Homo sapiens: one gene and its partner. The protein of the gene in region 1 interacts with the protein of each later gene in a biochemical or structural test. Each region holds a gene or a part of one and is shown in the gene's direction. Other genes may lie near its edges.

What was found. Proteins that work in one complex are often made in the same cells at the same time.
Region 2: the proteins of KIF13A (region 1) and ADAP1 form a complex in vitro, tested with the Homo sapiens proteins (one study listed by IntAct).

What each region holds. Positions count from the first base shown.
Region 1 is NC_000006.12:17,764,024-17,767,768, reverse strand, and holds part of KIF13A (kinesin-like protein KIF13A), read left to right. Parts: intron 1-2,822; coding exon 2,823-3,659; 3' UTR 3,660-3,745. UniProt on the Homo sapiens protein: Plus end-directed microtubule-dependent motor protein involved in intracellular transport and regulating various processes such as mannose-6-phosphate receptor (M6PR) transport to the plasma membrane, endosomal sorting during melanosome biogenesis and cytokinesis.
Region 2 is NC_000007.14:952,729-956,473, reverse strand, and holds the start of ADAP1 (arf-GAP with dual PH domain-containing protein 1), read left to right. Parts: upstream 1-1,793; 5' UTR 1,794-1,996; coding exon 1,997-2,078; intron 2,079-3,745. UniProt on the Homo sapiens protein: GTPase-activating protein for the ADP ribosylation factor family. Binds phosphatidylinositol 3,4,5-trisphosphate (PtdInsP3) and inositol 1,3,4,5-tetrakisphosphate (InsP4). Regulates the incorporation of CD63 and CD9 into multivesicular bodies.

The sequences.
Region 1 (3,745 bases):
AGAAATAACTTCAAGCATATAAAGGACTCCAAATTACTAATTCTCATTTTTAAATTTGATTTTCCTTGAAGTAAATAACTTTTCAGTACTTAATTATAGTAAATAGTAATTTAGTAATTAATTGCATCAGGTATGCTTGGACTTGGAGAATTGTGTTTGCCAACTTAAATCAAAAGGAAATAGAAGAGATACAAACACTTGAAATTTAATTTTGTGCCGGGCATGGTGGCTCACACCTGTAATCCCAGCACTTTAGAAGCCCGAGACGGGCAGATCGCCTGAGGTCAGGAGTTCGAGACCAGCCTGGCCAACATGGTGAAATCCTGTCTCTACTAAAAATACAAAAATTAGCCGGGCATGGTGGCGGACACCTGTAATCCCAGCTACTTGGGAGGCTGAAGCAGGAGAATCACTTGAACTCGGGAGGCAGAGGTTGCAGTGATCCAAGATCGCGCCATTGCACTCCAGCCTGGACGACAAGAGTGAGACTTCGTCTCAAAAAAAAAAAAAAAATTAATTTTGAGTCTAAACATGACAAGTAGAGAATCTAGAAAATATAGGCAAAGGCTACTGGTTCAGACAATTCTGTTCAATCTTTGTTCCTTCTCCAACATTCTGCCCAACCCTGGGAAAGAATGCTCCACCCCACTTTTTTGATAATGCTACTTAATTTAGAATGCAGATAAAGATGAGAAGAGATTAGTGTTGCCAAAAATTTTGTTTTGCCAATTTCAGGAACTTTATCACTGATATTTGATATTCACCTTTGATTAACAGCTAAAGAATTAGGATCACCAATTCCTTTACACATTTATTTTCAGTCACATTTTTACAACTAAGTTATAAAAACTAAATTATTTTAAAAGCTGAGAAGCATTTAAGAGAGTATTAAACTTTTTTTGAGGTATATAGAATCTTGAGATGCAAAAGAAAATATTACTATTAATCTAAACAGATGAAATTTATGTTCATTTGTGAACAAGTATTTGCCATGCCTTGAAGATAAATCCCCCCTCCCCACCTCGATTAAAAAGCAAATTTATGTTATGGGCCAGGTACAGTGATTCACACTTGTAATCCCAGCTACTCAGGAGGCAGAGATTGGAGGATTGCTTGAGCCCAGGAGTTTGAGGCTGCAGTGAGCTACAGTTGCATCACTGCACACCAACCTGAGTGACAGAGCAGGACCCCTGTCTGTAAAAAAATAAATAAATAAAAATAAATAAATCCTAGCCGGGCACGGTGTCTCATGCCTGTAATCGCAGCACTTTGGGAGGCTGAGACGGGCAGATCACCTGAGGTCGGCAGTTTGAGACAAGCCTGACCAACATGGAGAAACCCTGTCTCTATAAAAATACAAAATTAGCCTGGCATGCTGGCGCATGCCTGTAATCCCAGCTACTCGGGAGGCTGACGCAGGAGAATTGCTTGAACCTGGGAGATGGAGGTTGCGGTGAGCCGAGATCACACCATTGCACTCCAGCCTGGGCAACAAGAGTGAAACTCCATCTCAAAATAAATAAATAAATAAATAAATAAATAAATAAATCTTAAAAATAAAATAAGTAAATTAATAAAATGCAAACTTAATGAGTAAGGCTGATGCTTCGGTTCCAGGTCTTTACATGCACCTAGTAGTTCTAATTGTACAGATGCTTTAAACCAGATGACCAATGAAAGAAAGCTAACTGTTTTTGAGGTGTCTAAGTTTACCTGTGAATGAAATTCTTATCCATCCATGCAGCATCCAGGATTGTTCTAAGAGCAAGGACGCAAAGTTGTAATTCTCTGAGGGAGGGACCATGCCTTCTTGTGCTCACCATTGCTATTTCCAAGTCCTTAGGACAATGGCTGCCATGTAGTGGATGTTCAGTGTGTATTTGTTGAATGAAAGACATATTTTAAAAGGAATATTTGCGATTTCATTAGGTGCTTCTGAGATTAATTAGAAATGGCTAGAGAGTTTATCACTTATTTTATTTGGACTTAAAATACCCACATTTTTTCTACCAAATATAAAAGAATCATTCATTTGGAGAGAGACTGGGGAGTTGGTGACACCCACTTTTGCATGTATTTACCAATTTTTGTGAACAGGGGCTTGAAAACTGTTTTACAAAGGAGATTTTCATTTAAATTTCACTATGCCTTCTTCACCTTCTAGCCAAACCCTCTACTCATACTTCTCAAAAATCCTAGAAGACCGTAATTGTCAGATTGTTAGTATTTTATAGCCTTACGATATGTAGCATAATATAAGAATGAGTGTTGAAATTGTGTTTTTTGCCCTTTTGCAGTTGGGTTCTTTGTTTTACTCTCTTCTCCCCCATAAAATAGCTGAGAAACTTTTTAAAAATTACCTTAACTGCCTGCACTTTGCTTCCCAAGGTGAAGATTCTAAAGACAAAAGGAGTGGCTCTTCTCTGCTTCTGCCTGTTTCTCTGCTCATTTAATGAGAAAAGAGAAAACATCACAACTAAAAGCTAATTTTGAATAACTAACAAAATGTCCACTGCACTTCAGTTCCATTCTTTCTCTTAAACCAGGGAAGGAATGATTTCTAATTAGCACTGAGTGAGCCTAAAAGAACTAAATCCCCTTCATATTAGATGATAAGGGGTTTATATTCACAGGTCTCTGAGAATACTGATACACCTATATCTACAATAGGTGACAAGATCTGGCCAAATTTGGAAAGACAAAAAGAAAACACTGAACACCATGTGAATGTGAATGCCTTTAACAGCCAAGTATTTAAAACTTGTCTCAACAGTACAGTTGCTACAAGGAGCTAATGACTGACTTTTGCTTCACTTCTATAGGACTCTGAGGAGGAAGAAAATGAGCTGGAAGCTATTAACAGGAAGCTAATAAGTTCACAGCCTTATGTACCTGTGGAGTTTGCTGACTTCAGTGTTTACAATGCCAGCTTGGAGAACAGGGAATGGTTTTCCTCTAAAGTAGATCTGTCAAACTCACGGGTCTTGGAGAAAGAAGTGTCCCGTAGCCCTACCACCAGCAGTATTACCAGTGGCTACTTTTCCCACAGTGCCTCCAATGCCACCCTGTCTGACATGGTGGTCCCTTCTAGTGACAGCTCAGACCAGCTGGCCATTCAGACGAAGGATGCAGACTCCACCGAGCACTCCACACCATCGCTTGTGCATGATTTCAGGCCGTCCTCAAACAAAGAGTTGACAGAAGTCGAAAAAGGCTTGGTAAAGGACAAGATAATTGTGGTGCCACTCAAGGAAAACAGTGCCTTAGCCAAAGGGAGCCCATCATCCCAGAGCATCCCTGAGAAAAACTCCAAATCACTGTGCAGGACTGGCTCATGTTCAGAACTAGATGCCTGCCCCAGCAAAATTAGCCAGCCAGCCAGGGGATTCTGCCCCAGGGAGGTGACGGTAGAACACACCACCAACATCCTTGAAGACCATTCTTTCACAGAATTTATGGGAGTGTCAGAGGGAAAAGATTTTGATGGTTTGACAGATTCTTCTGCTGGAGAGCTTTCCAGTAGGAGGAGTCTACCAAATAAAACAGGCGGCAAGACTGTCTCCGATGGGCTCCACCACCCCAGCCAGCTGCATTCCAAGTTAGAGAATGACCAGGTAATAATTCCAGAGGCAGCCTTTTGGGTTCTGTGCTGTCAATGAGTATGTCTAACTGTATGTCAACCCCAGAGGCCCTTCACCGCAACAACTTGGTAGGAAAGATTCATCCAGTTGTTTGTGACAGCAAA
Region 2 (3,745 bases), on another chromosome or scaffold:
CAAAACCCTGTCTCAAAAAAAAAAAAAAAAAAAGGAAAAAAAGAAAAGAAAAGAAAAGAAAATAGAAAATACAAGTCAGGCTATTTCTCCTAATACCTAGTGCTGAGCTGCTGCTATTAATGTTCGTCTGTCTTTATTAGGCGACATTCTCCAAGCTCATGCTGTGTGGTGGATTCCGAGCCTGGCACAGGGACCCAGAGATGAAAATGCCACCTGTCCCCACCCCAAAGCCTCCCGTCTGAGGGAGGAGAAAGACCCATGTGAACGGTTACAGGGAAAGAGCACGTGATGCCACAGGGCACAGATCCCAGAGACACAGACCAAAACGGGCTGCCGCGTTCTGCTTCAGGTAGACAGAGCTTAAGCAGCTCCATGATTCCACGTCAGCTGGAGCAGGGGGACAGGTGCCTTTGGTGGCACTCTGGTCAGTGCAGCCTCAGTGGAGGCCATTCCACATCCCATACCATTGCCCCAGCGATGCCACTTTGAGAGCAAATCCACACAAAACTCTTGCAAAGATGAGGTTGTGTAGACCATGATTCTGATGCATTCAAAACGCTCTAAATGCCCCTATGCCAGTGACTGGGTGAACAAGTCATGGTTCAGTTGAACTTTTTTTGAGTTTGTTTGTTTGGTTTTTTTTTTTTTTTTTTTTTTTTGAAACGGAGTTTCACTCTTGTTGCCCAGGCTGGAGTGCAATGGCGCAATCTCGGCTCGCTGCAACCTCTGCCTGCCAGGTTCATGCGATTCTCCTGCCTCAGCCTCCCAAGTAGCTGGGATTGCAGGCATGCGCCACCACGCCTGGCTAATTTCTTTGTATTTAGTAGAGACGGGGTTTCACCATGTTGCCCAGGCTGGTCTCAAACTCCTGAGCTCAAGTGATCCACCCGCCAGGGTCTCCCAAAGTGCTGGGATTACAGCCGTTAGCCAAAACCCTGTCTCGATAAATGAATAAATAAATGAAAGGCTACAGGCCTCAGACGTTCGTTCTGGAAGGTGCTGAGGAATTTGTTAACAGTGGTTGCCTGGAAGGCAGTGGGGAGAGGCTTTCCTTTTTCAGTCTGGTATGTTCCAGTTTGTTTTCAGCCGGGTGTACTGCATTAACCCTGCAAGAAGAAAATGGAAAGAATTTGAAAAGATGCTGGGGTGTGCAGAGGAAGGGCACGCGAGTCTGGGAAGAGGTGACATCAAAACCAGGTTTTTTGTTACCTGTCAGCCCCCATGTGAAGTCCCGGCGGGGCCCCTCAGCCTGCCTGAGTGGGAGGGGTGCCCAGAGGGTCCCATCTGTGGGTGGTGGGCGGCTGGGTGGGTCTCAGGGGGAGGCTCCGTCTGGGCCCTGTGTGGCCTCAGTGCCCTGGGACGCTGGCGTTTGTCACCTGCTGGCCGTCCCTCCCAGGCAGGGATGGTGTGAGCGCCCTGGTCCTGGTCCGTAGCACAGGACACGCACACCTGCCTTCCACGAGCACCCCCATGCCCATGGTCTTGGGGGGCTCGGCAGGTGCCCTCTGCGCCCCCCACAGTAGGTGTGCAGGCTCCGTCCCACCGCGCGCGGCGGCACGAGGGTCCCACCCAGGCCGGCCAGGTTTTGGGGCGGCCTCGCGCCCAGGCAGGTGGGACGCTGCGCGCGGATGGGGGGCGGGCGGCGGGCGATTTCCCAGCGGGTCCCCGGGGCGCGCGGGCTGGGGGCGCCGGAGCGGCCGAGGGAGGAGGCCACACGCTCGCCTGCACCGCTGGGGGCCGCCCGCGGGCCTTGCCGGCCAGAGCGCAGCGTGCGCCCCGGGCCCCGCGCCGGCACTCGCTCAGCGACCGCGGCGGAGACACGAGCGGCGGCGGCGGAGCCCAGAGGGCGGCGGGAATGCGGAACCGGCGCGCGGGCTGAGGCCGCCCGGGATGGCGCAGGGGCGGCGGCGGCGGGCGGCCTGCGCGGGGCCCTAGCGAGCCGGGCTGACGCTCCCGGCCCCGGCCCCGGCATCGGCATCGCGGGCGCATCGCGGCCATGGCCAAGGAGCGGCGCAGGGCGGTCCTGGAGCTGCTGCAGCGGCCGGGGAACGCGCGCTGCGCGGACTGCGGCGCCCCGGGTAGGTGTGGGCCGGGTGGGCGCGGGGCCGGGTGGGTCCGGGGTGGGCGCGGGGTGCCGGGCGGGTCCTGGGTGGGCCCCGGGGACCGGGCGGGGGAGCGCGGACGCCGCGGGGGTGGCGGCGCTGAACACCGGGCCGGATCGGCGCTCGGATGGGGCCCGGGCCCGGCTGCACCTGCGGGGACCCGGACGTCTTCCCGGGCCGGGCGCAGCGGGGGGGCCCCCCCCAGGACCCCCGGAAACCCCCCTGCCGCCGCCTCCCCTCCCCCGCCGGGCTGCGTGTCTGACGGTCACCGCGGACCGCCCGCCGCGTTGCGAAAGCTCGGGCTCCGCACAGAAAGAGGAAATCGGGGCTGGCTGCAGGGAGGGAACGGGCCGCCAGCCGGAGGTCTCTGCTGGGCTGTGGGGTCCGCCGGCTCCGGGGCCACCTCGCGGTGACGTCATGCCTCACGCCCTTCCCGCACCGGGGGTCCCTGGGTGTGAGCGGCGCCCCTGCCCCCGGCTCCCTGCACCTGGCTGCTCCGGGGCGGGCGCCAGGACAGGTGAGGCCTGGGAGAGGTGGGGCCGGACGCAGGTCCTGGTCCACCCGCCGCCCGCCCGTTCGTTCTCCCGGCCGGGCATCCCTGACTCGGTTCCCAGGTCTGTGGGATTTCAAGGCACTGGAGTCCAAAGGCGCGGAGTCCCTCCCTTCCAGGCCACTGGTCCTGTCATTGGCTGTGAACGGGGCCCAGTGCCCAGACCAGCCCTGCCCTGCTCGGGAGCTGTCAGCCCCAGGCCGGCTGCGCTGTGGAGAGAGGGCCCCGCCGGAGCAGTCCCGCCACCCCAGGCACACCAGGAATCTGGGGGCCAATAGTCTAAGCCCCTCGGAACAAACCTAAACTCACCGGCGGTGACTGAGGCCCCCAGGGAGGGAGCGGGGGAAGACCTTGCATTTGCCTCCAAGGCCCTGGTTCAATATGCAGCCTCTGGACACCCCGGAAAAAGGGGTGTCCCTGATTCCCTCTGGGATGGAGGGGTCTCTGCCAGCCCCAGGTCGTGGTGGCTGCTGTCCAGCTGCAGCTTGGCTGGAAAGGCCACATCAGGAGCTGGGGTGTCCCAGAGGGGAGATAGCGACAGGCTTTTCTGGAAAGACAGGCAGGACCCACGGCCTTTCCATGGTCTCCTGAGACAGGACGGCCACAGGGCCCGTGCAATGGTGCGGTGGGGGTGGCCCCCTGGGCTGGCTCACCCCAGACTCTCTCCCCACAGACCTTTATTTCCTCCTGTTCAGGAACGCTCCCCAGGAAAGCCAGTGGGAAAGGGCCTGGCCTGGGGTTGCTGTGGCCCACGGGGAGGGGAGCTGGGCTTGCCTCTGAACCTCTGCTCCCTGGCCACACAGCCTGGGAGCAGCTTCTCTGGACTCAGGGCCCCTCTCCAGCCACCCTCTGGGCCTCCCAGCCTGGCAGGAGGAAGAGGGGACTTCCTTGGCCTGCTGGGTCCTTCAGTGGTCCTCCCCTCCCAGTGGGTGCAGGTGTGCCCGGCCCACCTGCTAAGCTTCCAGCCTGGCCCACCCCAGAGCTGTTCTCTGCCGTCCCTATGCCCCACGCTGCCGGGTAGAGGGCCGCACCTCTGCCTTTTCAGAATCTGTCCATGACCTCAGTGACTTGTCTCCTCTGTCGGGTAGCGCCA